Regions from separate parts of the Homo sapiens genome. Here all the other regions are linked to region 3. The links come from fine-mapping of genetic effects on gene expression. A gene starts in region 3. Each other region holds a variant in brackets. All regions are shown on one strand. Distances are between the middles of the regions.

Region 1 (8,276 bases), 160 kb after region 3:
CCTCATTTGGTAAAAGTTGTAGAAGTGAAAGTATACTGCAGCTTTGAAAATTTTCTATTAGGTTTGCCTCCTTTCCTGAGTCTTTCTTCTGAGCCCTGCAGCCCCCTCTGATCCCTCTCCTTTTCCCCTTTGATTCTCACCCTCCTCAGCCTTCACTCCCAGCTTCTCAACCTCTCTCTGTTTCCTCAGCAGATCCACTGAGGTCTTTCCAAGAGTCTATCTCTAAATTGGCATACCCCTACCCACTGCTTAATACTGCTTCAAGTATGTCAAAAGCTATTAATGCCAGAGATGAATATTGCAGTTGGTGCTCAGCAAACAGAAGATACTCCAGCTACCAGTATTCACTGTGCTTAGAGGAGAGTGGTGATTAAAAATGACTTTTTCTCTTATCGCATGTTCATTTTCAAGATAAAGAGTTTACTATGTGCATTGAAGAGAGCTTTTTTTTTTTTTAACATCTTGCCCATTTCATAAGGAGTCACTGGTGAAAACCTGCAGCAACTGGCACCAAATTTGCAGTTTTTCCAAGCAATATCTTAACATCCTTTGTAGACTAGTCCCTTTAGTCACTGCTCTGTGGCCATGCCCCTCAACATGGCTGTACCTGGAAGCTCATAGTCCTGGCAGAGCTGGCTGCTGTTGTGAGTCAGGAAGATGTTCCACAGGGAAGTGAGCTGGTGACAGCCTCCATGGGAAGTCAGAGCTGGACCCTAAGGGATCCGGAGTCCAGCTAGGCCGGTGCTCTCTGAAGGGCCAGAGAGGTGTTCTGGCATATCCTCATCACTGTCAAAGTCTGAGAGTGGACATTCATGCTGAAGGAGGAGCAGCTCCTAAATGGCTCTTCTTCCAGAAACTTGGCCTGCTGATTTTGCCTGTATTGCCTGTATGCATATTGAGACATATGTTGTCAGCCATTTGTAAAATGAAGTAGTGGTTTCTCTAAACCTCAGGAATATATTCAGAGTTTTTAATCAGGGTGAACTTGAGTGGGAATGTTTTGACTGCCTTCGTTTTAGTACATTTGAAAAAAATGTTGAATTTCTTAAAAATCATAAGTCATTAAAATCCAAGCACTTTTAGTGAGATAATGTGTTTGAGGGCCTAAATCTCATTTTTTTACCCATTTTCTAAAAAAAAAAAAAAAAAAAAATCTTGTTGAAACATTTTTAATAGAAATTCTATGAAGATAGGGTCTTCTGGCTCTCCATAAATCAAATCATAAAATCTTCTTACAGTAGTCTCTTTTTATCTGCAAGTGGTATGTTCCAAGGCTCCCAATGGCTGCTGAAACCATGGATAGAGCCAAACCCTATACATCCTGTAATTTTTCCTGTACATACATGCCTATGATAAAGTTTAATTTATCAATTGGGCACAGTAAGAGATTAACAACAATAACTAGTAATACAATAGAACAATTATAACAATATGCCAGCATCACTGCTGTCGCACTTTGGGGTCATTCTCAAGTAGAGTTAGGGTTCCTGGAAAACCAACACTGTGAAACTGCAACAGGCATGCTTGGCCATGCTTATGTCTCTAAGAACTCATCATTAGTATTTTCAGTTTGTAGAAAACATACAGAAAAACTTCTGAAAACATTACTGGTTCTGCTGTTTACATTAGGGAAAGATTATCTGTTGATGGTTATATTGGTGTTTGAGTGTTTTAATGATAACTGAGATGGCTAAGTGACTAATGGTTGGGGAACCTCTACCAAGTAGATATGCTAGGCAAAGGGATGATTCACATCCTGGGCTGGAAGGCCTGTGGGATGGCAAAACACTTCATCACGCTCCTCAGAATGGGGCACAATTTAAAACTTATGAATTGTTTATTTTTTAAATTTTCCATTTAATAGTTTTGGACCACAGTTGACTGTGGCTAACTGAAACTGTGGAAATTGAAACTGCAAATAAGAAGGGACTACTATTTTTTCTCAGAAAAATTCAACTCTTTAAAATTGGTTAACAACTCATGAGGTTGACATCTCTGAAACCCTCAAAGATGGCAGTGATGAGGGAGGAGGAGCTATTGTTTAGCTGGACATCTCTGATTCAATTCCATTGGAGGGGGGCATCTGTTCTCATTTTCGTCCTTCAGAGATGGGAAAAAATTACTCTTTTTCTTGGCTTGAACACTTATATCTTCTATCTTTTTATAAGCATGATACTGCTTTCTCTTCTGCTGTTTGCACAGATTGTCTTCTGACCTAGTTGAGCCTTTACTGCTGCCCAGACACCTTCTGGTAGCTAGCATCATATGAATTACTTAGCTTTATTAAGATAAAGTGTGAGCAAAGGGTTTTTTTTGGTCTTTTGTGTTTGGGCACCTTTAATATCTTTTTGCTGTTGCTGGGCAGGGAAGAGTCTTTGCAGCTGAGATCTTATTAATTTGCCTAGAATTTTTTTTAGTTTATATATTTTTTATTAATTAGGAAAACTAAATTTGACATTCAATGCAATTTTATGCAGCATCAGCTATAGTGGGTAACTGGAAAGATAGCCGCACCTGGTTTTTTTGCAAGCTGCCTGCATTACTCTGACCTCACTTGACAAAGTATAGGCTAATAGAGAAAGAATATGCAAATTACAGACATGTGACCTAAAATTCAGACTGAGATAAAATAGACAAGCTTTAATTGAACACTCTGACTATTCGTTATAGAAAATACATGCATATCCAATATATGTTTTTAGCCCAAGCTTACGATGGACCGACCAGATGATCTTAGTTTTGATAGAAATAATATGATTTAGGTCTTGATAAAAATTTGGAGCTTACATGGCATTTAGATGACTCTCAAAAATGAGCTCAAAATAATATTTGTCTTTAAAAGAATTTTTAGAGAATAATTATTATCTATTAGAAGTTTTCTATTGATATTAGTAAACATATTTCCAAATAAATGAAAGGTGGGCTTTTTTTCCACTGAATAAGAGAATTTTCTGGATTTCATTTAAGATGGGCCAGTTTTAGTGCCAACATGTACACATAGACATGCACATAAATACTTTGGTAACCGAGAAGACCTTAGCTCCAAACACGTCTGTAGATATTCCATCCAAACTCTTGCTATCCAAACATTTGCTATAACTTATAAGATTTATTTTATCCAGAATTCACTACTTAAATAAAAAAATCCCATCGTGTGAGCTAGCAAAAACATTTAAGTTGCAGGTACACCTTGTCAAAAAGATGGAGAATGTGTTACATCCATAGTTCAGCTACCCTCCCAGCAGGCTCGAGCTGTGCATTAGCGCTCTCAACTTACCACATTATTGAGTGAGAATGTCTTCTAAGAAAGCAAAAAGCCTCTGAATAAAACAAGCACACTCGAGAGGCCTAAAAAGAAAAATTGGGTGATAAAGCATATTGAGAGAGATGAACTAACATAAACTTGGCCATACTTACATCTCTAAGAACTATGC[A/G]TTAATATTTTTAATTTGTAGAAAAAAATACAGAAAAACTTCTGAAAATATTACTGGTTCTGCTGTTTATATTAGGGAAAGATTATCTGTGGATGATTACATTGGTGTTTGAGTGTTTTAATGATATTTGGTATTTGAGAAAACTGATAGGGTTTTTTTGATGGGTTGGGAAGACATTACTGTTTTTTCCATTTCAAATAATGGATTATATAGGCTTCTACTCTCAAAAAATCTGTCATTCAACATCTTTTTGGCAACAGGTTGGATTTGTTTTTCCATAAAAATCACTTGATGACATCTAATTTTATGTTGTTAAAAATAAAAAGTTTAAGAACATCCTCAGAATTTTCTGTCTTATACTTGCAAATTGTGTAGTCACTGTATTTATTTCCAAGTACTGACATAGGAGCAGACTAGAGATATTAATAATTTATAATTTTAGTTTTAGTGCCAATTTGAATTTCAACTGTAGAATACTATGATCCAAACTTACTCCTTTTGATGTTGATTTTGGGTGTAACCTAAAATAAATGACTTAAACTACAGACTTCATTTTTCCTAGCCCTAAATGTTAATTGCCATGACAGATCCTCAAATATAAATATTTACTGAGGTTTCATGGCTTTATTTAAAAACCAGAATTATTTGTTTCTCAGATAGTATCATCCAAATAAAAGATGACACAAATTTCTTAATAATTAATAATAATAACATGTTTGAGCTCATTCTATTAGCCAAGGACTCTTCTGGGTGTTTGCCTGAGTTAACTCATTTAGTCTTCACAACAGACCAATGAAGTTAGTACTGCTGTTGTCCACATTGTGCAGATGAGGAAACTGAGGCCCAGCATTTTATTCACATAACTAGTAGGCAGTAGAGCCAGGATTATGAACTCAGGCAGCCTGACAACAGACTCTGTGCCCCTATCCACTGCGGGGACACTCCATTTAGCTTATTCAGAGCTATGGTAATTCACTAAGTTAGGTGTTAGGACTCACCATTTGTGAAGTTCTTTCTTAACTAGTATCTTACAAAGTGCAAGTCTGAGTCCTTTGGGACTGTGTAGACAGAAAAATGATTTGTTGGTAGTCCTGGAAATTGCAAGTGAGAATACTTAAAAAGATTACTGGAAAAGAAGAAATTCAGTGGTTCCCAACCCATTAGTGTTCTAGAGACAGGGGATGGGAATAGAACCTTCCAGTACTGGGTCACCTTATGGATGGGAGGGAAACATTGCTGGAGGCATTGAGAGGCAGGCCAATTAAGGATAAAAAGAGACAGTGTCAGAGGTTCAGCCCAGACAAGCCAGGAACCTCAGTCTAGGGTGGTGGTCTGTCTCAGCCTTTTGTTCATAATCACTCCCTGAAGGAGTCTTATTAGGCATTTCTATTCCTTATTTCCCCCCCTCCTCCCCTGTGAAATTATAACACTCAGATGTATCTGTACTTTGTACATAGAAGAATAAGATTTTTCACTCCCTAAGAACAAATTTTTGCAATGTCAGTGCCTAAAGGCACAGATACACTGAATGGTGTCAATACACATGGGGTGGGGAGAGTGGGATCAGTGAAGCACCTGCAGGAACTAATGGGCTTCAAAGTTAGAAGGACTTAGAGACAGGAGGACCTAAGGGAGGTGAAGACAGGAGGTTTTCTTAAATATGTGAAGTCAGGAGTTCTTTGACTTAGGGTCACCATCCTCACCTACCCAGATGGGGAGTTTCTCTCTATCTTCTTATAAGCTTCACTTAACTCTTGTCTCAATCTTCCCTCCATGGCTACAAGTGTGGTCATCATGTAATCTGAAATGCCATTGTACTGTAATGAAATGTATCATTTCATAGTGTGTGTTTTGAATTCTTTTTGTTTTATTTATAAACCAGGTTCCCAAGAAGCCTGCTTTAAATTCTTTTTATTTGAGCTCAGAAAATGGCAGCTACTCCAATTTGCAAGAAATGGGTAATGAAAGTGCTTTAAAAACTAGAATGCACTCATTTGAGATCTCTAATCCCCAAATGGCAACCCTCAGGAAGAATCAAGCAGTAATTTGTGTTCCAGATAAAGAGCAAACTGATTGTGCCTGGTCTTCACAAGGCCAGCTAGCTCATTTTCTCATACCTTACCTCTCAAATAATCTAACACTACCTAGGAGGCAATAACTATAACACTGAGTAAAAATCTTGCTAACCTTTTCGCATTCAAATCTCTCTCTTCCCGTGTGACTTTGCTGCCACAGGGACTTGATTCTGAGCTCTGTAACCTAGCGCACATCCCAAGGATCCTAGTAAACCTTAAGTAACCTAATCTAATCACATACTAGGAGGCATGATAAGGAAACCAAGGCCTCCCAATATTTTTCTTCTTCACAAACAAGCTGTGGTTATTTAATTGGTTAAAGGGCAGGGTGTATCTTAGAACAAAAGGAGTGATGAAGAAAGCATCTACCAATACATGGGAAAGGCACTTCACCAGATTATTATTTGAAGGTTTGAAAGTACTAGAAGTCCAGCCAGAGAAGACCATGCCCAGAAATCAGAGAACTTTTGGGAAACTATAATCTTACATTTGTGGCTGTAAGTATCAAGCCTGGGTATACATTAGAATCAGCAAGAAGCTTGTCAGCTTCCGTCCCAGAGAGATTTTGACTTAGAAGGTTTGGGGTGAGCTCATGGGCACTGGTGTTTTTTAAAAGCGCCCCCTGCTCTGCCACCTCCCAGTGATTCTGATATGCATCTAAGGTTGAGGATCACCACTTTACATTATAAAGTGCTTTCACATACATGATTCAGGATTTTTGTATGCACACAGAAAGGAAAAAGAAACACCGTTAATGACTGTTGACTGTAAAAGAAAATAGGAAGAAACAGGGGTAGTAATTGTGAAAATGAAAGGATTAGAGAAAAGTCAATTTCTAGAAACTGGAGGAAAAAAACTTCACCTTTCTAAGGGCTAAAATTAGTCCTATGCATATAGAACATTAAGGAGGGACTTGTATGTCCATATTTACTGCTATATATGGAATAGTTTTTAGATGACCATAAAATTCTCAGCACAGAGAAGTCTGAAAACAGTCATTTAGTATTTGATGCCAATTACTTCCTAAGATCATATTGCTTCTCCTCTATAAATGAAATATATTGGAGAAGAGGAAAAAAAAAATTTGTTGTTAGTAAAAAGGTGTGTTAGAAAATGTCATATTAATATTCGTATGTGTATTTCAGGACTGTATAGACAGACAATATACCTCAGCAGGCTCTTAACAGCTTTCAGATAGTTATAATTAATAATTCTGCAGGTGAAAACTGGCAAGTGGATGATCTTGGATATAACTGAAGGATGAAGTAAAGCCAATGCTGTGGGCTCTCAGACTGTGTAGGGCGGGGCGGGGGGTCAGGGGCAGAATATAAAAGTCAGGTTGCAGCGTGGCAGAAGTAAAGAAACTTGTGATCAAAAAGTCAGAAATTAAATTTTAAGATTTTCAATGTGGGTGATGACAAACTTAGACTGTGACCAAAACAGTGGTGGTGGCTATAGTCAACAGAGTGGAGGCTAAGTTTTCATCTCCATGTCAGCTAATAAGATAGAGAGGAACAATGAATCAGGTACAGAAAATAAAATCTTCTAGACCATCAGTATTTAAGGCAAGAAGCTTCAGTTAATCAGCCCTTCACACTCTGATTTCTGACTAATTAAAAATGGCTAATAATAGCAATAATTACAGTTCAGCACTTACTAAGTGTCAGTATTGTTCAAAGCACTTTGCTTACATTTCAATATTCACAATAATTTTGTGACAATAGGTACTATTGGCCCATTTGACAGATGAGGAAACTGAGACATGGAAAAAGCAACTTACTCAATATGGGTTACAAATGCTGGGGAGAAAATATAGACATATTTGGGGTGAGAAAATATTTTACAGAGTATCAGCAAAAGTGAACAGAGTCCAGAAAGGGGCCTGCCTATCTGTGTATGTTGCATACCAACAGTTTCCAGGCTATAAGTAGGGGCCTGGTAAGAGATGAGTCTGAAATAATGCATTGGTACCATATTGAAGACAATTCTAAACCCCCAGTGTTGAGTTTGAGCTTTATTTGGAAGGCGGGAAGTGGGAGGAATGTGTCATAATCAAAGCTGTATCTTAAGAAAACTACCTTTTAAGTATGAACAAATTAGAGTGAAAGGACCCAAATTAGGGTTTCTGTTTGTTTGGGTGGTTTTTGGTACTATTTGACAGGCAATGAGTCTATCAATGAGAACAGTGGCAGTTGAAGGTTAATGAAAGAGACAGGTTTGATGTATGTTACAAAGGTCAAATGTAAGGTTTTGGTAACTGGTTAAATGAAGACGGTGAGAGAGAGGGAAGAGTTTAAATAGAATCCAAGATTTCAAGTCTGAGTGACTGGGTGACTACTGGCAGAAATTCAGGAGAGGCACTTTGTGGGGATGAGAGGGCCAGCAGGAGAAGCTAGACTTTGAAAATACGCACTTTGTTGTGTGAGCAGGCCATTGGAGGCAGGCCATAGCAGGAAGGTGGGAATGTAAGTTTGCAACTTACAAGAGTCTGGGCTAGAAAGGAAGCTTTTGGTGTCATCTGCATAATGATACTGTGGTAAACTGGGGAGTGGGACTGAAGTCTCTGAAGGTGGACAGAGGAAGTGAATACAGAACAGATCCCTGGAAAACATTTAAATTTAGGGACAATAAAGACGAGTCAAAAAAGCAGACAGAAGGTAAAGGAAGGATGGGAACACCCAGAAATGTGCAGAAATATACACTGAGCACAAGGGAATGGAAGGTTCCACAAACAAACTGACTTGGCAAACCCACATAGAAACCAAGA
Region 2 (8,276 bases), 78 kb after region 3:
CAGCTGTATCACCTAGAACAATGATAACACATGGTTACCAATAAGTATTGATAATTCAGTAAATATTTTTTAAATGGAGAATTTTTTTAAGTATAAAAAAGAAGAGATTAACAAAGGAAGGCTTTAGGGAATGCAGAGGATATCTCCCTAAAGAAAAGCCATCTGGCTAGGGCTGATGTCTGGGTAGCCTTATGACAGGAAGCTGAAAGGTGGTGGTGGGACAGGAAGCTGAAAGGTGGTGGTGGGACAGGAAGAGAAGCTATCAAAGGCCTGCTATTCTGGGTGGTTGCGTGCTAGACATCATGAGTGAGCTCTTCCGTGGCTAGGCCCTGATGATGATGATGCATGCTGCAGCAAGGCTAACTACACTTATAAGGCTACCAGAATGGAATAAATATAGTCTTTAGTGTCAGACAGCCTTGGGTTCAGTTGTTGTCTCTGCCACCTACTGGCTCTGTAGCCTAGAGCAAGTCATTCTGATGGCAGCAGCTGCCCGACTGGACTAGCTGCTGTGGGGATGCCAGCTGTAGTGAGGGAGGCCTGGCTGGGACTGTTGAGCCCGTAGAGGCTGAGAACAGGAGGGAGCCTGCCCCCTACTGACTTGGCAAGGCAGGAGCCCTGGGCTTTCAGGGCAGCTGCAGCCACCCAGCTGTGGCTCCAGACCCTGACACCCCTGCTCTCTTGAGGGCCTGGGAACACCCCCGCTTCTGCAGGCTCAGAAGGGCCTGCTTCCACCCCCTGGACTCTTCCCACTCCCAGCACCTGCTCCAATTTCAGAGCAAAGATGAGGCTCAGCCCAGGCACTGTCACAACCTGGCCAGGTGTGTGCACACTTGGGGCAGCACTGACACACCAATCCCCCACCTTGGCCCCCTCCAGACTTTGGGCGCCAAGGAGCACAGGAAGGAGGCAGCAGGTGGAGATGGGCTGAGGGCAGCTGGGTGCAGGCCTGCAGGTGCCATTTGGTGCAAACAGCCTGGGCTATGGAAGGCATGATGACAGTGGGAGGCTGACTAGGTTCCTGGATGGAAAGGTGTAGGTCCCCAGTGAAACCCCACCTTCAGGCCAGGCATGGCCTGAAGCCTGGGAGCCAGGCTGCCAGTTCCAAGTGAAGTCCATGGATATGAGTAATAACTTCATCGATGACCACTGGGCCAATTGGATAGTGCTTTTTCCTGGCCTGCCTATGGCCATCTATGGACCAATCACCATGCACTTTCTCCCTTCTGAGCCCATGAAAAACCGGGGATTCAGCCAGACTCAGAAAGAAGTCAAGACTACCAGCTGTGGGAGGGAGCTACCCACTATGGGTCTCCTCATCCAGACAACTTGCCTGCAGAAAGGAGCTACCCACTACAGGTCTCCTCTCCACTGAGAGCTGGACACTCATTGGGACAGCCTGCATATGGAAAGGAACTACCCACTTCAGGTCTCCTGAGAGCTGTTCTGTGGCTCAGTGAAGCTCCTCTCCACCTTGCTCACCCTCCAGTTGTCAGCATACCTCGTTCTTCTTGGGGGCGAGACAAGAACTTGGGACCTACTGAATGGTGGGACTGAAAGAGTTGTAACACAAACCCAGCTGAAACACACCTCCCACCTGCTCACCACATTGCAAGCAATGAGAAGGAGAGAAGAGCTGTGGCCCTTCAGGGAGCCCAGACCTAAGGCCTCCCAGGCCAGGGCTGTAAAACCCTCTTTGGAGCTCTACAGTTCCTGGCATCTCCAAGCTTTCTGGTGCCACAGTGTTCCCCTTGTCCAGACACCAGTGCCTGCAGCAGAAACTGCTTGCCATACATCTGGTCCAGCAGCAGCATCACACAGAGTCGGCACCCATGCTGGAGCCTGGAGATTCCCACCCTGCCTCAGCAGCCAGTGTGCCTGGCTGTGTGCAGTGGCCAGACCCCACGCTCACTCGTTCACACACCCCTTGCTGCTCTGCACCTGGCTCACCCTTGGCAGGTGTGGGATCCAGGCTGGTAGCACAGACCAAGCACAGCCTGCCAAACCAAGTGGGTGGAATGAGCCCAGAAGTGTGAGCAATACTCAGGCAGAAGGTGCCACTGGCCACAGAATTTCTGGCTGGCAAAGCAAGACCTCAAGGATCCCGTGACAATTTCACCTCTGTAGTAGTTTCCTTGTCTTAAAAAAATGAGAGTAACATTATCTAGTTCATACAATTATTAGGAGAATCAAATGTGAAAGTGCATAAAAAACAACAATGAAGCTACGACTCATACTGTCCAGTTTGAGAAGAAATGTCATGATTAAGAGTCTAGTAAGCAAAAACCATCTCAAAATAAATCAAGACCTTTATATGTAATTTTTAATTCCTTGAAGGAGGAAACAATGACCAAATTTATTTCTCTCTTTTTTTTTTTTTTTTTTTTGAGACAGAGTCTCGCTCTGTTGCCCAGGCTGGAGTACAGTGGCACGATCTCAGCTCACTGCAAGCTCCGCCTCCCAGGTTCACGCCATTCTCCTGCCTCAGCCTCTCGAGTAGCTGGGACTACATGTCCAGCTAATTTTTTGTATTTTTAGTAGAGACGGGGGTTTCACCGTGTTAGCCAGGATGGTCTCAATCTCCTGACCTCATGATCCACCCGCCTCAACCTCCCAAAGTGCTGGGATTACAGGCATGAGCCACTGCGCCCGGCCTCGCTTTTTTTTTAAGTTACCAGCTTATTCTTTATGCTCCACTTATGCTACTTTGCAACTGCTCACTTGCTTCTTTTATTTGGCATATAGTAGGTCCATATTAAATTATTTTTAAAATCTATGTTGTTTGGAAAATATTTCAGTATTTCCCAAAAGTTAATCAACCATAGGTCTTCTAGCCTTCCTCTACCTTTCCTTTCTCTAGCAGTTAGGTCACTAGGAAGACTGGCAAGAGTATAGGTTAAGAGATTCAGTTCTGCTTAATGATGTCACATGGAGATGACCAGAATTAGCTCTTTTAGAACATGTTTCTGTCTGCCCACTCAATTCAGCACTGACTGGAGCTGTCTTCTAACTTAATTGAATTTCCAGTGATAGCATAAAAGGGTGGGTTTTTTTTTATTTTAGTGAGAAAATTTTTAAAGAGTTAAAATAGAAATGAGCCAGGAAGGCTTCAAACCTCCTCATGTAACCTCATGGCCATTTCTGAGCTAGTATAAACAAAACATTTTGTGTGAAGTAGTGTTTACCTCTAAATTTCATCTTATTTCCTGGAGACATGGGTCATTATAGTGTAACTCTGGATACTTGCAA[G/A]ATTTGATAATAATAAACATTTACATTGAAGAAGGAATAAACAATCAGCAAACAAAGCCATCAACTCCCTATCACAGAGTTTGTCATCTTACTTGCCTACATAGTATCTCATGATTTAGAACACACTATTGAATATTGAAGAGATTTTGCTATGTTGTGAAATATAAACTTAGCCTTAAAACAAAAGGTACAAAGCAAGCTTTCTCACATCTGGAAATATATGATCAATATGAATCTTTCAAAAACATGGCTATGAGGAATGCAAATAAAATTTTTTAATTCTCTGCATGATATCAAGAGACAGTCAGACATGTTCTTATATAGTTACAGAATCTCCAGGTCAGGTTCTAAGAAGGGATTTTTTAAAACAAAACAAAACTCCTAAGAAATAAGCAGTGTTGCTGCACACTGTGCCACAGTTTGGTCACTGTTCTCCTGCTGCTTTTGTCTTGGATATGCACTTTGGCAGGTAACGCCCCACCTAGCTCTCACATCCAGTTCAACTCAGCACATGGAAAAAACACCCCTGAGGGCTTGTAAAAGCCCAGCCCTGGAATGGACAGGTGCCAGACATGGCTATTACTAATCCATGACATGTGAGACCACACACTGGGCTTTTGCATGGCTATGCCCTCTGCCTGAAAGCTCCCACCCTCCCTCCGCTGGCCACAATCTCCCACTAAATTCCTTGGGAAAGCTTTCCTGGGATTCTGACTGGGCTACCCCTGCTTTAATATGTTCTAGCATTTGAATTGGCTTATGTGATCGTCTGGTTGATGTCCATCTCCTTCATGAACTTAAACTCCAGGAGAGCAGTATTCCCAGTGCCAAGCACAGTGCCTGAAATTTAGAGACTCTCAAATGTTGGTTAAACAAACAAAAAAAATGTATGCAGGGAGTATCAAGAGAGGACTATGTGAAGGTTTTTAGAGATCAGGTCATGGAATGTGAAGGGGCCTTAACCTTGAACCACAGTGTAAAGTGGGAGAGAGAGGGGTAGATTTAATTTATCTAGGAACTACATAGTTCTCTAAAAGACTTTAACTCTGACTTCTACATAATGAGTGAGGTCCCATAGTAAAGGGGTCATTATCCCAATAACCTGTCAAGTTGGTTCAGACCCTCAAGTGAAAGTCTAAAGAAAATTCAGCTGGAGACCAATAGGAGCGAAATAACTTTGTGCTCCCTGGGGAAAGAGACTAGGAGACTAGGTATCATTGATCTTTTTGTTCCCCACACTTGGCATGTATTCAGCCCTCAATGTACTCCACAGCACTGTGTGTGAGAAGGGTAAAGCAACATAGATGTCTAAGTTGGGGCAGAGACATAGTCACACAAGGATTAAGGCAGCATGCATCCCTGAGGCATGTTTCTCCCCCAACAAGGTCCCTAAATAACATAATAGGTAGAATCAAATGAGTGAGTTCTCCTTCTCCTGCAGTAACCCTTGAGAAATGATTTATGTCACATTATTTTCTGACCTCCAGAAGAGAACATTTAATCAGTCATTTTAATATAAATGAAATTCCCAATCAAGTTATACTTCATCAGGATTCCTGTGATTCCTGCCAGAATTAAATCACATGTCCTGGTCAGTGCCAGCACCCAGTGTGGGCAACCAGGCTGGCATAGGAAAGTGTCTGTTGCTTGCAGGTAAGATATATTTTTAAAGGCTGCTGGCAGTTGCTTATTAGACTGAGATTTCTAGGTAGTGGTCATGTAGTTTACAAATAAATATTAAGTTCTTTGATGTTTATTTCCTAGATCTTTTTCATCATCCTCATTATGACAATTGTTATCATAGCACCACTGTTAAGAACAATTCCTTTGAATTTACTTACCAAGTCTCTCAGCAAATACTTTTGGAGGTTAATTCTCAGCATGAGAGAGAGAAGGTAGGGGAGGAAGGAGGAAAGAACCATCTTTATTCATTAGGAAGAGCCTATCATATCTCTCAGTATCTCACAGTGTTCAAATTACTTATACCTAATTTATTTATTTTCTTCTATATAATTTTTACCTTGTCTTGTCCCAAAAGGAATATGAAGTAACTTTAAAAATACATAACAATACAGAATTTTGAAAAGAGGTAACTGAAGGAATTGCTGCAGAGAGAACAAAAGCAAAGTCTTCTTAATGACAGAAATAAAATTATAAATCACTTGGTGATCCATAGGTTTGTAAAATGGTATAACAAGGCAGTTGTCCAGAAGCACAGCCGCTCTTAATGCAGAGACTGCCTGGGCCCTCCTCTAGAGGGCGTGGTGGAGCACAGTCCCAGGGACTTTCTCACTGCAAGTGAACAATGGCGACCCCTCCCCGCATCGTATTAGACTGTCATCTAGTGTCAGCCAATGGGAAAATCCTCAGTACTATATAAGAGCAATTCCACAGTGACTAGGAATGTAGTTCCAATACTCAGTTCAAAGCAATCTACAAAAGCATCATATATGCTTTAGGTAGTCAATCTTGTGCAATTTTTCTATTAATACAGCCTTTGATGAATGGTGGGAGGCAGTGAGCTAGAAGTTACAATTACCGCACAAGAATCTGGTACTGATGGCTCAGTGGGATGGCAGAGGAGAAGAATTGTAGGTGATTCTGCCAGTGAGAAGTTATTACCCTACCACAAAGCTAATGCCCCAGCCTACTATCACACTCTGTATTTCTGACTATTAGCCCTTTTCTAGTGCAACACTTTGGAATGTAGTTCTTGACTTGGGCCAGGCCTGGGGAAGAAAGAATTAGTTACCTTAGATCAACTTTCTTCCAGAAAGACCAAGGTAAATGGGGTAATTGTGGAACTCCTCAGGAGATTCAAGTGGCCTATAGTTAGAATATGCTTGTATTATCAACATCTGCTAAACTGCAAGTGACCTATTTTACAGATTCTAAGACATACTTTTTAGCATTTACTACATGTCAGGCACTCTTCTAAGTATTTTATATGTATGACTCTTTTAATCATGAAGCCACGGTGTGTAAGTATCTTTTTGTAGTTCATTGATAGGCTGCATTGCAAAAAAAGGTTATCATTGATGACCTCTGGATGTGAACTACTTATAAATGCATTAACCACAATGCCAACTTATTCATTTGATTTGATTGCCCATGTTCTCTATTTAAGGCATGTCCTTTCACATAACTGAGGTACCAGGAAAGCTGGCTGCCATTCACTACCAACTAAAGCTTGAGGATGAATGAACATACTGGCTATCATACTGTAATGATATTTTATAGGATACTTTACACAATTATACAGCATTCTTTTTATGAAGATCTGGGGAAAAGTTTCTTTTTAATCACAACAAAAAGAATAACTATTTCTCTAGCTATTCATAATAATACTGTTTTTATCTTATTATATTCATCAAGCACATAACCTATACTCTTTATTTCTTAGCACTTCCTACCAGAAAGGTCAGACCAAATGTGGGGCCCACATCTACTAAGAGCATAAGACATCAGGAAATGCACTTTGTCCACTATCCCTGTTTAGGTTTCAACAGGACTCAACATAATTTTTCTACTGTATTTTCCTTGTTCCTATTTTGCCTTTCTGCTTTTATCTTCTTGTATTGCACATTGATATAAACCACCTTAAATACATTTTGGACCAAAAGAGAAATGCACACAAAATGTATTTAAAATTTTTATTTCCAAGAGATATAAACCTGATTTCAATGGACTGTTGTTGGATATTCTTCTTTAATCTACCTTGCTTTATATAATAGTTCTAAAATATAGAGCTATTTTCAAATGAATATGAATCAGTCTTTCATTTTGGGGGAGTGAGGGGGAAGGAAGAGAATGTAACAATTATGGAGTATAAAGATGGAGAAATGACTTTGCAAACTAACAATTGAAGTAAATATGAAACCATATTTAGCATGTGAAGATACGGTTTTCACAGTAGTATTTGTGAAAATTCACTATAAGGTAAGTTTCATGAGAGCAGGGACCCTGTCTTCATTGTTTATTACTATATCCCCAGCGTGCAGAATAGAGTCTGGCATACAGTAGACACTGAAATAATATATTTTGAAAGTATGAATATAATACATTTAGAATTAGGAAACCGGGTTAATAGCAAAGAAATGATATTGGATATTGATTATTTAACCACAAGCATATTCCTTTTGGATTCGGTTTCATCATTTATAAAATGAGGCTGTTCACTAAGATTCTTTCCAACTCTAATATTCCAGGCTCTTGTTAAATGTAGTGGCACAGTTAAACATACGAATGTAAATACATATAATAATTTGGGAATTTTATTTTCAAAATAGGATATCCAGCTACATCTTCAGTGACCCTTGTAGATGTGAGTGCCTTGAGGCCAAACACCACTCCTCAACGTGAGTTCAGCAAAGTTTTCCTACATGATTGGAAAGAGACAACACACTCACAAGTTTTACTACTGCTTCTATAATGTTGACGTTTCAGCAAACAGCTGTATTTTTCATTTGATGTTTGTTAATATCTTGGTTTTGGGTTACTCTGCGGTGACTATATATTGATATGACAATTTCTATAATCTTAAAAAATAAGGGCTGGTGATTTATTATATTGTATCTTTTATTTGTCAAGGGATTTTAAGGTAATATTAAAGTAGTCTTCACAATACTCTCAGTGATCTGAGTTTGTGACAAGAACAGAAAAAGAACACAAATCAGTGACAAGCTGGCATTAAACATAAACTACAGAGCTTTTGCTTAATATGCCAGCTAGTGTTCCTGCATAGGGAAGCACATTTTCAATTTCAGATTTCCCCAAAGTCACATAGATTAAAAATTCTGTGCATCAAAGCAAAGTTAAATTACAGCTTTCGAAAAAAGCTGGATTCTGAAAATAATTTTGTCTTTCAGCCAGCAATTCCAGTATGACTACCCGAGGCTTCAACTATCCCTGGACCTCCAGTGGGACAGATACCAAAAAATGTTAAGTATAATCGTGGGTCCCTTGAGTCCTCTGGACTTCAGTCATTCATCCGACAGATATATTGAACGACATCTATGTGCTTTGTT
Region 3 (8,276 bases):
TCCTAACAAGTCTTCTGTTTCTCTGTTCTCCTTTCTTCCATTCATTTCACACACGCCCACCCAATTTATCCTTTTAAAATGTTACTTTAAATATATGACTCATATGCTGAAATATCTTTAGGGAGTCTCTCTGACATGAGGAAAAAACCCACACCCTTTAGCCTAGAATTCAAAGCTCTTGGACAGCTTTGTCTGCTCCAAGTCCCCTAATACAGCCTCTGCTAAACCGGAATAGCCCACTCACTAAATGGCCTTGAACTTCAACACTGTCAAGTGTTGGCTCTTCCTGTTTCTTCTGCCTGGAATGACTTAGCTTGCGGTTTCTACCAGTCTGACGCCTATAGGGCCAAGTTTAGATTCCATACTTCATATGCTCTTGGCCCACTCTACCCCTAAGATAACTCCCCCTTTGCTAAAATCCTGCCCTACCTTCTCATTTGGGCTGTGCTTTATGCTGCTTGACTTTTTTGGTGCACATGGATGCTTCCTCCCAGCTAAATGGTAACTGCCTTAAAACTGAGGGTTGTGTTTTATCTTTGGTATTTTAAAATTATCTAGAACTATGCCTCTTCAGTAATCTCTTAAGAATTGACATACAGCAAGTATTTTTTAATTAACTGAAACCTTAACCATCATGTTTTCTAAGCATTTTGGAAAACATGCAAAAGTATAGCACTCCCATTTTTATTTTTAGTAAGTGTTTAAAGATAAGTAAGTAATATTTGAGTTAACCATTATGAAAACCACAAAAGTAAGTTTACCTTTTGCTCAACTTCCTGTTTCTGAAAATGTCCTTTTCTCACTGAGTGTGTTTAGCTAGAGCATTTAAAAAGTTTGTCCAAAACACACAATCATGGCTTGCCTTTAGCAGAAATAATGTGTGTTCCTGCTTCTCTTTGTAAATAATTGAATTTGCCTCTGCAGTTCAAGAAGATCACGATTTCTTTTTGTGTGTGAAACTGACTTGCTTCTGTTTTCTCCTTATGTGCAGCAGACTATAAGGCAGAAGAAACCCTGTGCAATCGGGATATGGTGGGTAGGGAGGATAATAGAAGAGATTGACATGACTTCCATAGAAGAGTTATTTTTAAGTATAGAGAACGCCTGTCTATCCCCATGCTGAAAGAGCCTTTAGAAAATATTACCAGGATTGAAAGGCGGTGGGGGCAATTCCCATCACCTGGGATAGCCGTGCCAGTCTGCGGAGTGTTGCTGCCACCTGCTGCATGCAAACAGCCATGGAGGGGCTGTTGCCTGGGTCTTGCAGCTGCAGGACACCCGAAGTGTAAGCGTTCAGTTAATATTCTGTGGCCATGCATCTGAAATTGTTATACTTTCAGAACCTGTGTGGATCCCAAAGAAAAATTAATCAAATCTGATGGCTTCAGGCCATAGAAGTTTCTAGATATAAGAATCATTAACTAAGCCCTGAACAATACACAGAAGACAGATTTGCCGTATAGCCACTAAATGCATGGCTCAGGTAGCCCAACCCCAATGAGAGGCAAGAATTCTACTGAAAGTAAGTCTGTAGCACTGGAAAATAAACGACCATTTCCATGTTTCTGAGTTTACAGACTTTTTTGGAACAACTGTTTCACTTTAATACAATAAAAGATAGGAGAAGTCTAAATACCCCAAAGAGGGTATTGTTCTTAGAGAATTCAATAAATGTATATTTGAATTGGTTTCTACTTAGGTAAATTCCTCTTAATATGAAAAATGGAACGAGATCATAGAATCCCTTCTCCAGGCTTGTAATGTGTCCTGATTTAATAGGGACACCAACGTGCAAATCAGGATCTTCATAGTGCATCTCCAGGACTATTTTTGCTGCTATGCTTCATAAAACTTTGATTTACTAGAATTTCCAGGGGCAATGGGAAGAGATGAAGCTACCCAGAGCAGTTATGTCTCTTCCTGACCTTCTATAAAGGACTTTGAGTTCCCAGGCCTTCCCTGGAAAATCACTGTCAGTACTACCTGACCCAATATCCCCAGTGACCTGAAACTCATGGGAAGTTGGGAAGGGGTGATAATAAAGGTTTGGGGAGCACTGGACTAGGCAAGCAGTAACTACATCTAAATTCTGCAAGAAATCATTAGCTGAGGAATACTGAATAAGTATGGCAATTATCATGGCAAGTATTTGCAGTGGTGGTATAGGGGGTGATCTGGACGTCCAGGAAGACAGTCGCCCTTGTTTATTTACATGAAAACCTCTCTTCTCCCATCTAAATTTAATCTCCTGAATGGCAAAAGCATTTCCTTCTGTCTTAGCATCGTCCATATTCACCACGAGTCCTTGCATAGGAGAGATTGGTGTATACATGATGACAACCTGACGAAAATTATCTCCACCTCACCTGAAAAGAATTCCCATCTCAGGATTACAACTGGCCTTTTCATTTGTCTTTGGTCTTGCTAGGTGGTACGTATATTCTAGTAATGAGATTAGGGTCACAGGATATTTTAATCATTCATACGGTTGTATGAAGACACACATGTTTATTTGTAGTTATTCTTTGTCCATCAAACTTACAGTAGTCCTCAGTCTAATGCTTGTTTTCTTAATGTTGGAGGGTGATGACAGCCTATTTTATCTCAGGCTGAAAAACTAATACAATTAAATCAGAGAATCATAGCAGGGAACAGTCATCGTGTTCTACGAATAGCCAGACATTTTTACCAAGGGGTCACTTTCCTGAAACCTGTTTGCGGTTCTCTGTAAATAGAAGTAACTAGGCAGATGTAATAAGCCTAATAGCTCACTGAGGTGGGAATTCTCTGCCTTTGGATTCTGATTGTTACTGCCTTGCTTTGGCTTAGGCATGGATAAACTCTTCTGTGGTGAACAAAAATGGCCTCCAGCCAACCTGGTGGGAGACTTCCCTATCTGACCTCCAACCTTCCCTCGTCTTCCCAGACGAGGGGTAGAAAAGTAGCCCTCACTCCTCCACTCCCAGGAAATGTGCATTTCCCTGCAAGAGGAGAGACAATAAAATTTGGTTTGATAGCTGACACTATTCCCTGTTACTTTTCAGATTTTATTAAAATTAAATGTGTTAATTCTTTGTTCTTTCACCCCAGGGCAATTCTGGAAAGAAAACATATCTTAAGATTGAACAGAAAAACTATTATGAAAAACACCAAGCTCACATTTGTTAAATGACTTTGTGCTCTTGAAAAAAATGTATAAAAAGCACATTGCCAACTGCTCTGCGTGATATCCTTTGTTTGGATTTTAGACGCAGCTTGACTGACACAGAGATCCTGAATAAGAGACTCTTTGGATACTGAAAAGTCTCTTAAATAAGGTGATACACAAATTTCAGAGAACAATTTCAACATTGTTCTGTCGAACGTTATACTCAGTCCTGAACCACATTACTTTCCTGTCTACGTTTCATTTCCTGGGGGCTTGCCAAGTGATAAACAGACCCAGGCGTGTGTGGTAGAGTTCGGGTTTTTTAGCACGAAGTGGGTGGCTGGAGTTTGCTTGAAAACATCAATTGACTTTGTGATCATTACAGAAATGCTGGTGTAAGGTGTTCAGAAGACAATGGAGAAAAAATGGAAATACTGTGCTGTCTATTACATCATCCAGATACATTTTGTCAAGGGTAAGACTTCCAGTTGTCCCTTCTTGTCGGATGGGCCGCTTTAGGGGCGGATGGGGCCTCTGTTCATTTAAAATGCCTTGTGACTGCTGCTGAAATTGATCACCAAAGGACAAATCATTACTAAGGGTTTCAGTTATGTATTTAAGCGGCAGGTATAAGAGAGATGCTAGAATCTAGAAATGATTACTAATGAACACTAAAAATAAGAAGGGAATGGGTCATTTGTGCCACTGCTCTGAGGCATTTTCACCCATTTCCTTTCTAACAGGATCTCTGGAGTAATTGGCAAATTGTGTTTCTTGGAAATGAAATGCTCTCCAAATGGTAGCCAAAACAACTGCGGAAAAATTAAAAATTACAAAGCCATCAACGCTCAGAGATCCTTGTTTAACTTTTTTCTCTCTCAAGTACTCTCTTTCTTTTGGATATAACAAGTATTTCTCATCCAAATACTAAGGTCTTTGGGAGTTGAAAACACGTTGAATTTTAATGAGGCATGTGTAGGTATGAACCTGGGAGACAAAGTGGAATCCTTATGACAGTGGGAACGAGAGCCTAATGGGCCTATTTAAAAAGAGAAGGAAGCAAGATTAGTTCTGTATTCCACAGTATGAGAGTATCATAGTAAGCCTGAGTGTCTTAAGAATTAACTGTGCTTTTCAGACATAGCTATGAAAATATTAAGGAGAATTTCTAAATCAAAAGAGATTTGGAATATAATGCTGTAGATAGGATCAGAGCCATATTTTCAGGCAAAGGATAGCTCACAGGAAGTTACATTAAACTGTACTAACCTCTGCCTACCAAACTTTTGCATCCACAGAAGTATGATAATTCCCATTTGTCAAGTACTTTTACTTTTAAGAGGCTTGTTTCTTCTCAGTTGCTTGTCATCTTTTTATCTTTTCCTTTTGTGAGCTTCAGTGGTACTTGTCACAATAATATATATCATTTCTGTAACAGGATTCCATGTTAATTCTAAAACTGAGGCCAACACTATTGAAGGCATGTCACAGTCTCAATGCTTAACACATTTTAAGTGTCCTGTATCACTCAGTCAGACTGCTGATGGGAAAGAGACTCTACTTATGTCTAGTATTTCAGACCATCGATTAGAGGTGATACTAAGTGGAACCTCTACCTAAGGTTAGATGAGGTCCTTTCAATCCTTGTATATTGAAAGTGAAATTTCTTACTCTAATCAACTAGACTGAATTTGGGAGACAGTTTGGAAGTTATGTGGAAGGAAAATAAAATAAAATAAGTAATAATAAAGTTTAAAATAATAAGCATAACATAGGTAATAGTTAACATTAAGTATAGGTTACTTAGAAGTTATATGTAGGCTAAGAAATTTAAGTAGCCCCTCCCAGCATTGCTAACAAGTTGCAGCTGTGAGCTTATCTCAACCTTCCAAGCTTCTTGCCTGCCCCCAGACCCCCACATATTTCTGTAACTCCTGTTTTACCTTACCCCATCTCTGTCTAGCTTCAAGATTGACTGGTTAAGATAACTAAATTGTAAGTTTTCTCAGAATTGTCACGGGTTAAATAATTTACTGTCTTTGCCTGAAACCTGTATCCTGCCTTGTTTTCCCACCTCAAACGACATATAAGCAAGCCTGCTTTCTTTGTCAGAGTCAGCAGCCATTTTGGGCATGAGTCTGCTGTGGGCCTGGATGCCTGAATTAAATAAAGTTCTCTTTGGTCTCTAAAGGTCTCTTTGTCTTCCTTGGCTGGAGTTTTACTGTTATACTTATGAGGGTTATAGAAAGACCACAGACTCTGGGCAACTGAATTCATTCTTTTACTGGAGGTGTGACTTTTTTTGTTTTGTTTCGTTTTTCGTTTTTTTGAGATGGAGTCTCACTCTGTTGCCAGGCTGGAGTGCAGTGGCATGATTTCGGCTCACTGTAATCTCCGCCTCCCAGGTTCAAGCGATTCTCCTGCTTCAGCCTCCCAAGTAGCTGGGACTACAGGCGTGCACCACCACGCCCAGCTAATTTTTGTATTTTTAGTAGAGACGGGGTTTTGCCGTGTTGGCCAGGATGGTCTGGTTCTCTTGACCTCATGATCTGCCCACCTCAGCCTCCCAAAGTGCTGGGATTACAGGCGTGAGCCACTGCGCCAGGCCTGGAGGTGTGACTTTGAGCATACTGTTTCATCTCTCTGTGGCCCAGTTTCTTCCTCATAAAAAGGGGTTAACAACATCACCTATGGCGTGTGAGGGGGATTAAACAAGATAAGATATGAAAGGCCCTTGTAAACATGTATTTTTCAAAGAAATTGCTATACACATATCATTTATTTTTGCAGTTTCAGAAAGCATCACGTGTGTATTATATTCAGCTGTCGTTTTATAACCCAAAAAGCCAATTATATTAAACGTAAGAAGAATCGTCATACTAAGTTTGCTGGTGTGCTTCAATTTTCAAATAGGCTTAATTTTATTCACAGGTAGTCTGAAACCTTCAATTATATTTTGGTCAGACCAACACATAGATAAATATTTAGAAGTCAGTAATTACCTCTAGCTTCTCTACGTAAATGCCTCCTCATTTATATTGTCTCATGCATCTCTATCTGAGTGAGACACAAGCTCTACTCTATTCCTAAAGCAGCCAGGGAGAAATTTCCTCAGTTGCTCCCCTCACCTTACTGAAGTGACTAGGGTTTTTAATTAAGCGTCATTCTATGTGAATTATTTAAACTCATGGCTCATGTTCTTTCTTTTCAGGAGTTTGGGAAAAAACAGTCAACACAGAAGAAAATGTTTATGCTACACTTGGCTCTGATGTCAACCTGACCTGCCAAACACAGACAGTAGGCTTCTTCGTGCAGATGCAATGGTCCAAGGTCACCAATAAGATAGACCTGATTGCTGTCTATCATCCCCAATACGGCTTCTACTGTGCCTATGGGAGACCCTGTGAGTCACTTGTGACTTTCACAGAAACTCCTGAGAATGGGTCAAAATGGACTCTGCACTTAAGGAATATGTCTTGTTCAGTCAGTGGAAGGTACGAGTGTATGCTTGTTCTGTATCCAGAGGGCATTCAGACTAAAATCTACAACCTTCTCATTCAGACACACGGTAAGCATAACTGGTAGAGGGATGTGCTTTCATTCAGCTCTCTCTCATTCAACAAATGTACATTTTAAGAAAAGCAAGGTTAGGCTTGGTGCTCAGCATACAAAGGTTGAGCAGAAAGAGCTACTGTCTGATAAGAGAGACAGGAAGTGACCACAGCATTTAAGTAAATAAATGTAAACTTGCAACAGTGATAAGTGTCGATAATAAATACTGTAACAGTCTTGTGAAGGAGCACATCACAGAGGCCATTGAAATTGTCCTTTAGAAATTAACACCATAGCTTAAGTCTAAAGAATGAGTAGACACTACCACAATTTAGGAGGTGGGGCTGAGGCAGAGTGGGATTGTGAGTAATCCCAGAGAGAGAAAAGAGCTTGCATGAAGCTCTTTGGAGTGTTTGAAGAAATGGGAAAATGCCAGTGGGACAGCAATACAGCAATTAAAGGATAAGGCAGGTAAGGACCAGATCATGTTGGACCTGGTCAGCTTCCCTTTTAAAAGGTTTCTATTTTGATCTCAGAACCATAAGAAGACATGGAAGTATTTCCAACAAAAGGATGGCATGACATTTATAGGCTGACTGTATTTGTGTTGTTTAAAAAAAAAAAGTCATACTGACTTTCATGTGAAAATGAGGTGAAGATGGACAAGAAGGAGAAGGTAGAGACAACTCAGGAGACCACCTCAGTAGCCCAGAAAAGAGAGAGTGGTAGTTCAGGTAGATATAGAAGGAAAATGGCAAATTTTGTTCATTGGGCATAAAACAGATATGATCATAGAGAGAATATAAGACAAGGGCAGTATGAAGGAAGGAGAGAAAGAAGTTAAAGGTGACATCTGGGTGTCTGGCATGCACACCTGAATGGTGGTGCTATTCACTGTGATGGAAGGTAAAGGAAGGTTTGTGGGTGAATTTATGAAAGTGATTCTGGGTATACAATATTTAGTCTAGGGCAGGTAAAGGGACAAAGGAAGCTGCTAACTATGAAGCATTCACACCAAACATACTTTGGAGGCCTGCATTTAGAAGTGGGAATCCTAGATTTAAGTTCTAGCTCCTTTCTGAATAGAAATAAAATTTGACTTGGGGCCTGTGGTGTAAATTCTCTGAGCCCATTTGGAAAATGATTATAATAATGCCTGCCCTAAATTACCTGGTCCTAAAGTAAATGATTTTCATTTCTGCTAATGGAAAACAATGAAAGTGAAAGCCAACAGATGCAAAATGCACTGGCAGTGGACTGGTTCTAACTCAGGGCAAAGTGGCCTGGTAATATAAGAAAAAAAAATAACTCGTGAAGGTCATATTAAAGGGGGCATAGAGCTGTCCAGAACAAGCAACAGGTATGGATTTATAGCCTCCTCTCCATGTCTTATAACTTACTTGCTTTAAAAATATGCTGTTGGAACAGTCCACCTATAGGCCAAGGTCCCATCAACTACTATCTTATAATGCCCAATTCCCTTGCTGTTTTCCAGGAGGAAAACACACCACACACACACACACACAGACACATACACACACACACACACACACACACACACTTCAGTTCAATTAAG
Region 4 (8,276 bases), 100 kb after region 3:
CAGCCAGGTATGGTGGCAGGCGCCTATAATCCCAGCTACTTGGGAGGCTGAGGTGGGAGATTTGCTTGAGTCTGGGTGGCAGAGGTTGCAGTGAGCAGAGATTGTGCCATTGCACTCCAGCCTGGGTGACAAACTGAGACTCCGCCTAAAAAAAAAATAAATAAATAAAAGAAAAATTACCGACAAAACAAAGTCCAGGCCCAGATGGATTAACAGCAGAATTCTACCAGACATTCAAAAAAGAATTGGTACCAATCCTATTGACACTATCCACAAGATAGAGAAAGAAGGAATCCTCCCTAATTCATTCTGTGAAGCCAGCATCACCCTAACACCAAAACCAGGAAAGGACATAACCAAAAAAGAAAACTACAGACCTATATCCTTGCTGAACATAGATGCCAAAATCCTTAAAAAAAAAAAAAAAAAAAACTAGCTAACCAAATTCAACAACATATCAAAAGGATAATCCACCTTGATCAAGTGAGTTTCATACCAGGGATGCAGGGATGGTTTAACATACACAAGCCGATAAATGTGATACACCACATAAACAGAATTAAAAACAAAAATCACATGATCATCTCAATTGATACAAAAAAAAATTCAACAAAATCCAACATCCCTTTATGATTAAAACTCAGCAAAATTGGCACACAAGGGACATACCTTAATGTAATAAAAACCATCTATGACAAACCCACAGCCAACACAATACTGAATGGGGAAAAGATGAAAGCATTCCCTCTTAGAACTAGGGCAAAACAAGAATGCCCACTCTCACCACTCCTCTTCAATGTAGTACTGGAAGTCCTAGCCAAAGCAATCAGACAAGAGAAAGAAATAAAGGGCATCTAAATCAGTAAAGAGGAAGTCAAACTGTCACTGTTTGCTGATGATGACTGTTTACCTTGAAAACCCTAAGGACTCCTCTAGAAAGCTCCTAGAACTGATAAAAGAATTCAGCAAAGTTTCCGAATACAAGATTAATGTACACAAATCAGTAGCTCATCTATACACCAACAGCAACCAAGCAGAGAATCAAATCAAGAACTCAACCCCTTTTACAATAGCTGCAAAAAAAAAAAAAAAAATGAAATACTTAGGAATATCCTAACAAAGGAGTCTAAATTCCTCTAAAAGAAAAACTACAAAACACTGCTGAGATAAATCATAGATGACACAAACAAATGGAAACACATCCCATGCTCATGGATGGGTATAATCAATATTGTGAAAATTACCATACTGCCAAAAGCAATTTAGAAATTCAATGCAATACCCATCAGAATACCACCATCATTCTTTGCAGAATTAGAAAAAACAATCCTAAAATTCATATGGAACCAAAAAAGAGCCCACATAACCAAAGCAAGACTAAGCAAAAAGAACAAATCTGGAGGCATCACATACCTGATTTCCAACTATACTATAAAGCCATAGTCATCAAAACAGCATGCTACTGGTATAAAATACGCACATAGACCAATGGAACAGAATAAGCCCAAATACTTACAGCCAACTGATCTTCAACAAAGCAAACAAAAACATAAAGTGGGGAAAGGACACCCTTTTCAATAAATGGTGCTGGGATAATTGTCTAGCCACATGTAGGAGAATTAAACTGGATCCTCATCTTATACAAAAATCAACTCAAGATGGATTAAGGATTTAAACCTAAGACCTGAAACTAAAAATTCTAAAAGATAACATTGGAAAAATTCTTCTAGACATGAGCTCAGGCAAGGATTTCATGACCAAGAACCCAAAAAGAAATGCAATAAAAACAAAGATAAATAGCAAGCACCCAAAAGCAAATGCAATAAAAACAAAGATAAAAAGCAAATGCAATAAAAACAAAGATAATTAAACTAAAGAGCTTTTCCACAGCAAAAGGAACAGTCAGCAGAGTAAACAGATGACCCAGAGAGTGAGAGAAAACCTTCACAATCTATACTTCTGACAAAGAACTACTATCCAGAATCTACAACTAACTCAAACAAATTAGTAAGAAAAAAACAAACAACCCTATCAAAAAGTGGGCTAAGGACATGAATAGACAATTCTCAAAAGAAGATATACAAATGGCTAACAAACATATGAAAAAATGCTCAACATCACTAATAATCAGGGAAATGCAAATCAAAATGACAATGCGATACCACCTTAGTCCTGTAAGAATGGCCATAATCAAAAAAAATGGTAGATGTTGGCATGGATGTGGTGAACAGAGAACGCTTCTACCCTGCTAGTGGGAATGTAAACTAGTACAGCCACTATAGAAAACAGTGTGAAGATTCCTTAAAGAACTAAAAGTAGAGCCATCATTTGATCCAGCAATCCCACTACTGGATATCTGCCCAGAGGAAAAGAAGTCATTATTCGAAAAAGATACTTGCACATGTATGTTTATAGCAGCACAATTCACAATTACAAAATCGTGGAACCAACCCAAATGCCCATCAATCAATGAGTGGATAAAGAAACCGTGGTGTATATATATATATATGCACTATGGAATACTACATAGCCATAAAAAGGAATGAATTAACACATTTGCAGTGACCTGGATGAGATTGGAGACTATTATTCTAAGTGACGTAACTCAGGAATGAAAAACCAAACATCATATGTTCTCACTGATATGTGGGAAGCTAAGCTATGAGGACGCAAAGACATAAGAATGACACAATGGACTTTGGGGACTTGGAGGGAAGAATGAGAGGGGGCGAGGGGTAAAAGACTACAAATATGATGCACTGTATACTGCTTGGGTGTTGGCTGCACCATAATCTCACAAATCACCACTAAAGAACTTACTCATATAATCAAACACTACCTGTACCCCAATAACTTATGGAAAAAAAAAATAAAATAAAACCTTTTGTTCTTTCCTTTATCTAAAACTTTGGACGTAAAATATTATATCCCACCATATTACCATGGTAGAGCTTAGTAAATTTTGACTTGTGTGAAACAGAACTTTGTCTAGTCCTGAGTTGACCAATTGTCTCTTTCATGATCATGCTACTCTAGTGGTTTGAACTATGTAAACTTTCTAGTCATCTGTATATACAATGTGTCACATAATTATGTATTATTGGACTACATGGGTCTCCAGGGAACCCTCAGTTTCTACTTTGACAGGGGTGAGAATCAGGAAGACCTCGAATCCCTGGATGTATGTTGTATGAAAGGGAACTGTCTTCAACACTTCTAACCAATGCTAACATGATAACATCACATGGTTTCAGTCCAGGCTATGTAAAAACACAGAAAAGATGTGATAACTAATATTACATCTAGTTCTTTGACCTGTATTTTTTGAGATTTTGCTATATGAAAAGCAGTGTAATAAAAACGGGGCAATGAAATAAATTTAAATCCTTGTCTTCACTCACAAGCAGTTACTACCTAGCCGAGACAAGGAAAGAAAACCAATCCAGATAGCTTTTTGCCCAAATGATCCATGTAATCGAAATACCTAAAGACCTATCTATCATGTATAAGAAATTTCACTGGAGTATCATTAGCAATAACAAAGTCTGGAAACAATTTAACCATCTAACATCGTGAGATAAATTAAATAAACTGGTATATCCATTGAACTATCCAGTCATCTAATAGAATGAGGTAAATCTCTGTGTGGTGATATGGAAAGTATTCCAAGAATGTTTTTTAAGAAAAAGAGGCCAGGTGTATGTCTTTTGGCCTCTTATTCTTAAAAAAACATGTAAAATGTAAAATGTTAAAAATGTAAAATGATTTTTACCTTCTTAGGATACTTTAAAAGCTCAAAATCACTAATCACTAGAGAAATGCAAATTAAAACCACGATAAGATACCATCTCACATAAGTTAGAATGGCTATTACTGAAAAGTAAAAAAAAAAAAAGAAGAAGAAACTGATGCAGGTGAGGATGTGGAGAAAAGGGAATGCTTATACACTGCCGGTGGGAATGTAAATTAGTTCAGCCATTGTGGAAAGCAGTTTGGCTATTGCTCAAAGAACTTAAAAAAAAAATTACTATTTGATCCAGCAATCTCATTATATTGGATATATACCCAAAGGAATATAAATTGTTCTACCATAAAGACACATGGACACGTATGTTTATCACAGCACTATTCACAAAAGCAAAGACATGGAACTAACCTAAACACCCATCCACAGTGACTGGATAAAGAAAACGTGGTACATATACACCATGGAATACTATGAAACCATAAAAAGGAATGAGATAATATTCTTTGCAGCAGCATGGATGGAACTGGAGACCATTATCCTAAGCAAACTCACACAGGAATAGAAAACCATCTACAGCATGTTCTCACTATTAAGTGGGAACTAAACATCGAGTACATATGGACACAAAGACAAGAACAACAAACACTGAGGCCTACTGAAGGTTGAGAGGAGGGTAAAGAT[TA/T]AAAAAAAAAAAAAAAAAAAACCCTACCTGTCAGGCACTGTTGATTACCTGGGTGACAAAATAATCTGTACACCAAAATCCCCACAGCACATAATTTACCTATATAACAAATTTGCACATGTACCCCTGAACCTAAAATAGTGAAAAAAAAGAAAAAGAAATCATGGACAGAATAGTGTGTATAATATGCCCCCAACTGTAATAAAAAGGGTATATATTCATGGTACATATGTATGCTTATATATATCCACAGAAAATTTCTGGTAGGGTACGTAATTAACTCTTAAAAGTTATCACCTCATGTAGGTAACAAGGCTTAGACATGCCCACCTCCAGAGTATGATCACAGCCAATGTTGAAGAAAATATGTTTCACGTAGGAAAAATGGTTTAATCCTGTTTTCCAAATGCCAAAGTTTGGGATTAAAGTTCATCTTTCTTTATGCCCTTTTCAGGTATTGTGGTCAATAAGCCCAAAGATGGAATGTCCTGGCCAGTGATTGTAGCAGCTTTACTCTTTTGCTGCATGATATTGTTTGGTCTTGGAGTGAGAAAATGGTGTCAGTACCAAAAAGAAATGTGAGTATAATACTAACATATGTAGGAACAGATTAATTTTTCATTATAAAATATTCATCAGTACAATATATTATTACTCTATGAAGTTCCTCCCATATTTTAATGGGGAAATAATGCTCACAGAAGCTCAGAGAGATTATATAGCTTTCCCAGCATTACATAGTTGGGATTAAATACACAACTCCTGACTCAGTATCCCTCTCTGCATTGGCCTAGTCAGGCTGTAACATTCGTCAGATAGAGCAAGTCCGTGGACATGAAATGAGAACTGAGCCTCACCTCTCCTCAAAACTAAAACTGATTTTTCTTTTAATCTTCATTATTTTTTCATTTTCATGCATCTTTGAACTGCCTAGGCTCCACTGGTCATAGATGCTCAAGTGTGAAATTGAGTGAGAAAGGTAATTTTAAGAGATTTCCAGCTGCTTTTTTTACCAGAGTGGGCTTTTACTGCCCTTTTCTTTTTTTCCCAAGCAGAAAAGAAAGTAAGCATTGGGTTACCCCATTTTTGTCTTATTGAAATATTTTCCAAAAGCCTTCTCCAATCGGCAGTCTGAAATGGTACATAAGGTTAAGCCTCATTTTTCTGACTTGCTATTTTGAGTCAGTCTGGGTTGGGCCATAACTGGAAGGGACCCCAGTACCCAGAACTGATCTTCCACTTGTCTTACTACTACTCTAAGATAACATTAACCATTGTGCCATATACTTTCCTACCTTTTGCAGAGTATCCTTGAAGACTCTGTAACCACATACAGGGAGTGGTGAACAAAACACTAAACCAGTAGTTAGAAATTCTGGATTATTTTCCAAGGACTACAATTTGGCCACCACATGACCTTGAGAAACTCATAATTCCCCAAAAAACAAAAGTAAAACAAAAGTGCATGTTTCGTAGAATTACCTATTAATACATATGAAGTCTCCATTAAAGCATCTAAAAATTGGGTAATAGGGATTAGAGAGCTTTATATTAAATGAACAAATGAAATCTGAAAATCTGAACTGATTTTTTAAATTGTTCTGTATTCAAATGTTTGTTTTATATGGAGATGAGAATCAATCTCTCTATCCTCCTTCCCCCACTACCCACTCTTTATCTCTCCTAAGATGCTATGGATTGCCAGGGCATAGAGGTGTTTGAGTGATGAACATAAAGATGTTCACAGATATATTTCTGTTGCCTGATATCAAGATAGCTAGAGCATTTGTATAGCTAAATTCCATACTAACTTGGCTCTTTAATGCATTTCGGAAAAAGAGATTACTTGTACTAACATAAAATAGTTCTTTGTACAAAGATGACTTTAAGAATGTTCACTGATTCAAACAAAAGGGATTTAGGCATTATCTAGCCAGTACTCGGGGATTGAGAAGAGCTTTACTTCCCATCTCTACCCTATCCCCGCAGTACATAGTGAGTGTTTGGGCAAAGGCTGGGGCTAGGGTTAGCAAAGAGGCTGTATGAAAAGCTTCAGTCTTAAATCCTAGGATTTTAAGATTTAGTCTCTGGAGGAATATTTTAATCCACATAAAAGAAACATTTCTTCTATTAGGAGGCAGTTGTCATGGAGAGTATCAGTTCTGGTGAAAAGACTTGAATTGTTGGTCTGGTTCTCTTGAGCAAGTTGTTTAAAACCTCTGAGCCTCAGTTTTATCTGTAGAATGGTGATGCATTTCCTGCACACAAAGTAAATAATGTTATGATACATTTCCTGCACACAAAGTAAATAATGTTATGATAAAAATGCTCAGTTTTATCTGTAGATGGTGAGGCAATTTCTACATACAAAGTAAATAATGTTATGATAAAAATTCTTTGCAAACTACAAAATACCGTATAGATCATGAGGTTCAAATGTGACTAACAGGCACAGGGTTATGCCAGCAAAAATGCTGAAAGAACTGGGAGAGTATGTCTCTTTCTCATCAATCTGTGTTCTCCTTTAAAGAAACAACACATGTCTGTGTGTGTGTGTGCATAAGACTCCCTCAATTCTTAGCATTGAAAGACCAATATTTTGTTCCTAGAATGGAAAGACCTCCACCTTTCAAGCCACCACCACCTCCCATCAAGTACACTTGCATTCAAGAGCCCAACGAAAGTGATCTGCCTTATCATGAGATGGAGACCCTCTAGTCTCGTGAGACTTTGCCCCATGGCAGAACTCTGCTGGAATCCTATTGAGAAGGTAGACATTGTGCTTTATTAATATAGTCGCTCTTCAGCCATGCCTTTGCTGCAGCTGAAATGGAAGTCAGAAGTGAGTGACCTGTTTTCCCAGCAACTCACCCTCTTCCATCTCCAAACGCCTGAAGCTTAACCAAGAGTGAGAGGATATGTCATGTTCACACTCAATGCAATTCGTAGTGGTTTTCTTGCTTATGTAAGAAGTACATATTAGTCTGCCATCTTTAAAAAAAAATACAGTATTTTCATTTAAATTCTCTGATGGAGGGACAACAATGGTTTCAACTGTATGCCCATGCCTGATCCTCTTATTTGAACATCTATCAACATTGTAAACTCTTTGCCAAAATCCTGGGGCTTTGCTGCATTCCCTAAGATAATTACAGGAAAAAGAAAATGTAAAAGTGCTAACAAGGCTGCCAAGTAATGGAGAAGTATGGTTAGTCTTCATATTGAAATTCTGTTGCTTATTTTCATGGAAGGAAACAGAATACTTTGCACAGGAACCACATTTTCAATCCTCCTTCACTGTCTTCCTACCATGTTCAGCCCAGACTCCTGCCACATGGACCAGGATGAAGAGGGATCAAAGAGATAATTAGCCAAAAACCCAGTAGCCTAGAAGATACAAAACTCCACTGGCCTCTAAAATTATATTAGCCAAGAGTGGTTTCATTTGAGTGCCTTCGTGTGTATGTCCATCAAACTGGAACCAAACTGTTTTGTAAGTAAACAGGCAGCCTAAGCCCAACCCTACTTTCTAATTCCAGTTATTCTCTTTTTCATCTGGGGATTTACCTGTTCATTTAATCTGCCTGTTTTGATCTGTTTTGAAAAAGATAAAGAGCCTCAAATCAGACCAGCACTGATTAATTAACCCTGCTCCTACCAATCTTTTTTAAAGCAGTTGAAGCAGAATGTATAGGTGTCAGAGAAGAAACCTAGTCAGCCAGACGTGCTCTGTATTCAGCAATAGTTTGTGAATGAATAAATTACTAATCCTCCTTGTCGCTTGAAACCTTCCCACACTCCCTGCTCCAGGAGGGAAAAACAGATGTTGTTGACAGATAGAGTGAT

Evidence for each region.
Region 1: its variant is fine-mapped to the expression of CD96 in whole blood (TOPMed, PIP above 0.99). The same link has a PIP of 0.9 or more in blood mononuclear cells.
Region 2: its variant is fine-mapped to the expression of CD96 in whole blood (INTERVAL, PIP 0.96).
Region 4: its variant is fine-mapped to the expression of CD96 in whole blood (INTERVAL, PIP above 0.99).

What each region holds. Positions count from the first base shown.
Region 1 is chr3:111,694,029-111,702,304 of GRCh38, forward strand. All of the region lies in intron 1 of PLCXD2 (phosphatidylinositol specific phospholipase C X domain containing 2), which reads left to right. Among named protein-coding and RNA genes, the nearest start is that of PLCXD2-AS1, 21 kb to the left of the region's middle. The variant A/G (reference allele first, on the strand shown) is at 3,435.
Region 2 is chr3:111,616,216-111,624,491 of GRCh38, forward strand. It overlaps CD96 (CD96 molecule), which reads left to right. Exons shown (of 14, transcript NM_005816.5): 9 at 7,539-7,607; 10 at 8,118-8,189. Among named protein-coding and RNA genes, the nearest start is that of ZBED2, 25 kb to the left of the region's middle. RefSeq lists enhancers at 288-788, 789-1,289. The variant G/A (reference allele first, on the strand shown) is at 3,250.
Region 3 is chr3:111,538,687-111,546,962 of GRCh38, forward strand. It overlaps CD96 (CD96 molecule), which reads left to right and starts at 3,511. Exons shown (of 14, transcript NM_005816.5): 1 at 3,511-3,623; 2 at 6,360-6,716. The coding sequence starts at 3,563. It overlaps LOC105374039 (a long non-coding RNA gene), which reads left to right. Exons shown (of 3, transcript XR_001740846.1): 3 at 3,249-3,317.
Region 4 is chr3:111,642,659-111,650,934 of GRCh38, forward strand. CD96 (CD96 molecule) reads left to right here. Exons shown (of 14, transcript NM_005816.5): 13 at 4,885-5,008; 14 at 7,040-8,276. The coding sequence ends at 7,148. Among named protein-coding and RNA genes, the nearest start is that of PLCXD2, 28 kb to the right of the region's middle. The variant TA/T (reference allele first, on the strand shown) is at 4,430.